Linked DNA regions of Homo sapiens. The protein of the gene in region 2 purifies or fractionates together with the protein of the main gene of each other region. This does not show direct contact. Each region holds a gene or a part of one and is shown on either strand. Other genes may lie near its edges.

Evidence for each region.
Region 1: the proteins of ZNF280D (region 2) and CBX1 purify together in Homo sapiens (affinity purification with mass spectrometry; 4 studies listed by BioGRID and IntAct, with this or other methods). This does not show direct contact.

Annotation. Positions count from the first base shown.
Region 1 is NC_000017.11:48,094,653-48,098,478, forward strand, and holds part of CBX1 (chromobox protein homolog 1), read right to left. Parts: intron 1-3,826. UniProt on the Homo sapiens protein: Component of heterochromatin. Recognizes and binds histone H3 tails methylated at 'Lys-9', leading to epigenetic repression. Interaction with lamin B receptor (LBR) can contribute to the association of the heterochromatin with the inner nuclear membrane.
Region 2 is NC_000015.10:56,629,660-56,632,819, forward strand, and holds the end of ZNF280D (zinc finger protein 280D), read right to left. Parts: intron 2,464-3,160; coding exon 1,839-2,463; 3' UTR 517-1,838; downstream 1-516. UniProt on the Homo sapiens protein: May function as a transcription factor.

The DNA.
Region 1 (3,826 bases), on a different chromosome or scaffold from region 2:
CCGGAAAACGGGGTTAGGATGCAGTGAGCTGAGATCGCGCCACTGCACTCCAGCCTGGGTGACGGACCAAGACTCTGTCTCAAAGGAAAAAAAAAAAAAAAAAGTGTGCTCCTGACTGGGCTTGGTGGCTCACACCTATAAATCAGTACTTTGGGAAGTCGAGGCGGGTGGATCACTTGACGCCTGGAGTTCAAGACCAGCCTGGCCAACATGGTGACACCCCATATCTACTAAGAATACAAAAATTAGCCAGGTGTGGTGGTGCATGCCTGTAATCCCAGCCACTTGGGAGGGTGGGGCACAAGAATTACTTGAACCAGGCAGGCAGAGGTTGCAGTGAGCCAAGATCTTGACACTGCACTCCAGCCTCAGTGACAGAGCAAGACTCTGCCTCAAAAAAAAAAAGAAAGAAAAAAGAAAGTAGTGTGCTCCTGTACAGGGCCAACAGTCAAAATCCTATCCATTCTTCAAGACCCAGCTTAAAAATGCTACTTTCTCCATGAAGCCTACCCAACCTAGCTAAATAATATTTCTCTTTTCTTTGGGGTTCCCAAAGCATTCTGTTTCTATTTTTACTTGCACATACAATTAAAGGTAGGTCTGGAACCTGAACAAGTTGTTGAACCCTATATGGACAATAAAGATGGATGTCTCAGGTGGGGCGCGGTGGCTCACGCCTGTAATCCCAGCACTTTGGGAGGCTGAGGCAGGCAGATCTCCTGAGGTTGGGAGTTCGAGACCAGCCTGACCAACATGGAGAAACCCCATCTCTACTAAAAATGCAAAATTAGCTGGGCATGGTGGTACACGCCTGTAATCCCAGCTACCTGGGAGGCTGAGGTTGCGGTGAGCTGAGATTGCACCATTGCACTCCAGCCTGGGCAACAAGAACAAAACTCCATCTCAAAAAAAAGAGGATGACTGTCTCAGAAGCATCAGGGAATAGAATTCCAAAGCTATAAGCTTTTAAGGGAATAAGCAGCAAGATAAATCTGATCCATAAGCCCTAAAGAGAAAACAAGAAAGAAGTACCTTTTGTTGAAAGAATCAGCAACTACATACCAATCATCAAAAGGCAGGTGAAGGCATGTGTAGTATATTCAGGTGGTAGTCTTGTTTCTAAACTGCTTGTAGTCTGTAAGCTGTGGCTGTTTGCGAAGCAAATGCTTTCCAGATGGAAAACTTGACTAAGCAGAAAACAAGAACTTATGCCACACACAGTTAGCAGGAGTTTCTTTTTTTTTTGGAGATGGAGTCTTGCTCTTTCACCCAGGCTAGAGTACAGTGGTGCAATCTCGGCTCCCTGCAACCTCCGCCTCCCAGGTTCAAGCAGTTCTCCTGCCTCAGCCTCCCGAGTCACTGGGATTACAGGCATGCACCACCACGCCCAGCTAATTGTGTATTTTTAGTAGAGACGGAGTTTCTCCATGTTGGTCAGGCTGGTCTTCAGTTCCCACCTGAGGTGATCCACCCATCTAGGCCTCCCATAGTGCTGGTATTATAGGCGTGAGCCATCACGCCCAGTCAGGAGTTTCATTTTTAAAGGAACACCAGCCCTTGAATTCCAGAGGATCAAAGGCTAGAATGCTGGTGTGCGAATACATTTTGAATTTTATCTGAGATGTGTTCTGAAACTTGGAAAACCCCTTGAGTATGTTGACATGGATATTTTGACACAGATTTTTGGGTTGAGAGGCCACAAGAGTCTACAAATGTTAGTATGGACACAGAGATACCTCAAGCTATCTTTCAAAGGTGAATTTAAGATAAAATAAAAGTGGTTAGAAAGCTAGACCAGAATTATGACTACATTGGAAACGTATCAGAACACCACAGTGGCCAGGCATGGTGGCTCACACCTGCAATCCCAGCACTTTGAGAGGCTGAGGTGGGTGGATCACTTGAGGTCAGGATTTCAAGACCAGCCTGGCCAACATGGTGAGACCTCATCTCTACTAAAAATACAAAAAAAGTTAGCTGGGCATGGTGGTGTGCACCTGTATTCCTAGCTCCTCAGGAGGCTGAGGCAGGAGAATCACTTGAACCCGGGAGGTGGAAGCTGCAGTGAGCTGAGTGGAGTGCACCACTGCACTCCAGCCTGGGTGACAGAGCAAGACTTGTCTAAAAAAAGAAAAGAAAAACAAAAACCACCACAGTGGGCCAGGTGCAGTGGCTCATGTCTGTAATCCCAGTACTTTGGGAGGGTGAGGTGGGAAGATTACTTGAGGCCAGGAGTTCGAAACTAGCCTGGGCAACATAGTGAGTCCCTGCCTCTATTTATGTGAGAAAAATAAAAGTTCAAAAACCCCCACCACAAGTTGGGCGTGGTGGCTCACGCCTGTAATCTCTGCACTTTGGAGGCCAAGGAGGGTGGATCACCTGAGGTCAGGAGTTGAAGACCAACCTGGCCAACATGATGAAACCCCATCTCTACTAAAAAAATACAAAAAATTAGCCAGGCGTGGTGGCAGGCGCCTGTAATTCCAGCTACTTAGGAGGCCTGAGGCAGGAGAATCACTTGAACCGAGGAGGCGGAGGTTGCAGTAAGCTGAGATTGCGCCACTGCACTCCAGCCTGGGCAACAAGAGCGAAACTCCGTCTCAAAAAAAGAAAAAAAAACGCCACCACATTGTACCCCATAAGGATACACCATTCTTGTCAGTTAAAAATTAATACTATAGGCTGGGCGCAGTGGCTCACACCTGTAATCCCAACACTTTGGGTGGCCGAGGAGGGTAGATCACCCGAGGTCAGGAGTTCAACACCAGCCTGGCCAACATGGCAAGACCCCCATCTCTACTAAAAATACAAAAATTAGCCGGGCGTTGTCGGGGCCCCCTGGTAGTCCCAGCTACTCCGGAGGCTGAAGCAGGAGGATCGCTTGAACCTGGGAGGCGGAGGTTGCAGTGAGCTGAGATCGCGCCACTGCACTCCAGCTTTGGCGACAGAGCGAGACTCTGTCTCAAAAAAAAAAAAAAAAAATTAATACCATAGTTCTGTTACGCACTCAAAGTGTCAACTATTATTTTAAAAGGCACAATTTCACAGACAAATTAGGTTGCCCCCTTCTGGTCATCAAAGTATAAATGCTAAAGGCAGGAAAGATTTAATACAAGTTATTCTATGCAAATATTGACAAGATCTAAATTTTGTCCATATCTGAGTAACTTCTCCAAATAACCTTGGAAAGGCTATTCAATTTTTCAACAGACATTGCTACTGGTAAATTATTGCTCAGGTCAATACAAAGGACACAGAAGATTTTTCAAGATTCTTTTAAAACAGATATATTCAAGCTATTTGCTTGCTGACAAAACCCAGAATCTGAGGCCTGAGGTATTTAAAACGGCCAGTTGCACAGCCTGTATACCTTTTCTATATTTAGTACCAGAGTGAGTACAAAACTGAAGCTAACCATTCTGGGCAACAGAGACTGTCCCCACAAAAAAGAAGCCATGCATGGTGGCATGAGACTGTAGTCCTAGCTACTCAAGAGGCTGTGGTGGGAGGACTGCTTGTGTCCAGGAGGTTGAGGCTTCAGTGAGCCATGATGCCACCACTGCACTCCAGCCTGGCAACAGAGCGACACTCTGTCTTAAAAAAACAAAAAACAAACAAACAAACAAACAAAAAGAAACTAACTGAGGCTAAGACAAACATGGCAAAGCAACAGCTTAACTCTGCCAAATGTCACAGACACAGGACAAGCAAACTACTATGCACATTAATTTGGCTGAGTTCTCAGAATGGATCTCAAAGCTCCCCTATTCATCATTCATTCATCAACAATCTGAACGGCCTACTATGTGCCAGGCACTAATGAACA
Region 2 (3,160 bases):
GCAACAGACTGAATGAGACTCACAAGTGGTCCTTATAGAGACAGGCGTTTTTCCTAACCCTGCTCTTCTAAGGTTTATATTATTCCAAAAATCTTCCATGATACAGAATTACATTTTAACAAGGTGAAGGATGAGAGCTAATGGCTCCCTCTCTCCCTATCTTTTCTTGGGAGCAGGAAAGATAAAAATATTAGCTCTCCTCCCCAAAATACTCCAAATAATTCATAATATATTTTGCCTATTTAGCCTCTTTAAATTGTTGGGCAGATAGAAAAGTATAATATTAAATTCTATTTCTCTTGAAGTAAAAGAATTTATAAAGCAAATCTATTCTCATAAATATTAGCAATATTGTCCCCTGTACTTTAAGTCCTAATTTAAAATAATGTATCAGCAGTTAAAGAATGTAGAATGGAATCCTCACCACTAACACTGATATTAAATTTCTTGAACAAGTATATAATTTCTAAAGGCACCAAAGGTAATCTGAATCAAGCAGTGATTGGAAAAATAGAATTATTCGGGGGCAGATTTTTATTGCAAATATTTACTCAAAAACTACTATATACAGCAGAGTATTTTAATCGCCATTTAAAACATTGAACATTCAGTGAAACAAAATTTAAGAATCCAAAGCACATTTTAAGAAGTAAAAATGAAGCATTTTAAATAAAAGTTTATTAGTATTTCAAAGCAAACTACTGTTCTTCATATTATTCATTTCTATATCTATTATATTCTAGATGATAAAAAGAACTGAAAAATCAATTTAGCAGCCATCTTATAGATAAATTAGGCTAAATTTCCAAAACCAGTTCTTTTACATCACTGTTTTAGGTCCCATTTGAAGTTTTTATTTTACAATTACAGAAAAGTCACTTAAACATGGCTGAATACATGCCAGGACATGTTTTCAGTTTACTGCTTTACAATATCTACATTATACCATACTTTGGTTTGGCTTCCAGACCATTTTTATGGGCCTATTTCTAAGGAAGATCATTAAAACAATATTAAAAGCATAATAGCTACAGGAGTTTCAACAATGGGTTTCTACTTTACATTAATACAACTAATACATCAAAGAATTTCTACACAGCTTACACACTGACAAAAAGCACAAATATAAATTTATATCTTAATAATTCCACTTTCACTGAAAGTTTAATTAAGGTAAGCTTACAGCCTGGCAGGCTAACACTTGTATGGAGGTACAAAGATTCAAATATTCTGTTTACATGCGTCTGACTGGAATGTTATATTAAATCCAAAATTAAGTTTATGTTCATCCAAATTCTCATTAGATCAATTTAGTACTCTAAGCATGCTCCATTTACCAGCATCATCCTCACAAATAAAGCCTTCATTAACAATGCCAATCAGCCATTGTTTTTAATCAATTACTCCCCAAAAGTACATGGTTTCCAAATCCCTTCCTCTCAGTTAACTGAAAAGGATATACAGGTAATAAAGATTTTTAGCTTAGGATTGATGGAAGTTTGAAAGGCTTTATAAATATTACTAATATCATCAATTCATGTCAGCAACCAAATCCCATTTCCTTGAAAACCATTAAATGAGACCTTTCCACTGCAAATTTAATTATCATTAAAATCCTGTTCGTGTTTTTAAAAACTTTTTGGGAATCCCTACTAATCATGCTATTATTGGTGAATTGATTTGTTTGATAACATAGGTTGAACATACAGGTAAAGTGTATGTGTGACCTCCCTTACATATTTCCATTTCTGAACCTACAACAGCACCACTGAGCTCACCTGATAGCACTGTTCCAAATGCCCTTATCGTTGGTACACTGAAACTTAAAATGACTAATTTCAACTTCTTTCTTTTTCGTCTTCCAGGTCTACTGTTGCCTCTGTTGTGCTAGGGTTATTTCCTCCAGGAATGTCATCTGTTTGATCAGACACTACTTCATCAGTCTTGGCTGAAGGATCACCACTACCTTTCTGAAGAATCTCTGTGGCTTCATACTCAAGTACCTCGGATGGAGTCAGAGGTTCCAAATGAATACTGCCTTGCTCGCTAACATCAGAACTAACAGATTCAGGTTCATGTCTTTTTCTCAAAAACTGATCAATGCTTACATTATCTGATGCTAATCGCAAATCCTTAATATTCTTTGAAGAAAATCTGGCTTCACTGGAGTTGTGATCTTTAATCTGATCAGATAAGATTATGTTTTCTGAACTTTGGCACATCTTCAACTCCATTTCCTGACAAACGTGTTGTATTTGTTTTTTCTTTTCCACTTTATCTGCACCAATATTTGAATCACAACTGACGATGTTTTTTGAGCCAGTTTCCTGGTCTGCAAGACAGGTTTCATTTTCCTTATCTGAAACTGTTATGCTTTCTTCACTTTTTGTTGTTGATGAGCCTTCAAATGAATTTGCATTACATCCATTTTTTTCTTTTGAAGAAGCAGCTTTATCTTGTTTACTGAAAAATAAAGTCATTTATTATGTATTTCTTCATAAAGCAATGTTTTTGAACACTGTCAAAATAAAGACGTGTTCTAAAAAATAAAAAGTCAAGGTACATTTGCCCACCAAAAAGGAAAACAGTCCAAGTTCCCAATCCTCGCTATGGCAGTAAAATTTAGGAGGAGGCCATTTTCTTAGGCAAGATTCTGAGAAACTCTGGAATCACATACTAAAAGATATCTATCAACTAGTTTTAGTCCTGGCTGTCATTATTTTCATCTGTTCATATCTCTTGCCTGTTTCTAGTTTAAATTTAAGTATTTTTATTAACTTGTAAAAGTACCTAAAATAAAAAAATATATTTGGAAAAAAATCTATATTTTTTTATGATTTTTTTTTTTTTTTTTTTGAGACAGGGTCTTGCTCTGTCACCCAGACAGGAACACAGTGGTGCAAATATCTCACTGCAGCTTTGACCTCCTGGGCTCAAGTGATCCTCCCACCTCAGCCTCCCAAGTAGCTAGGAATATAGGTGCACACCACCAAGCCCAGCTATTTTTTTTATATTTCATAGAGACAAGGTTTTGCCATGTTGCCCAGGCTGGTCTCCTGGGCTCAAGCAATCCTCTTGCCTTGGCTCCCAAAGGGCTGGGATTACAGGTATGAGCCACCATGCCCAGTCTCCTTTATGATTTAAATAGCTTCTTATGTTT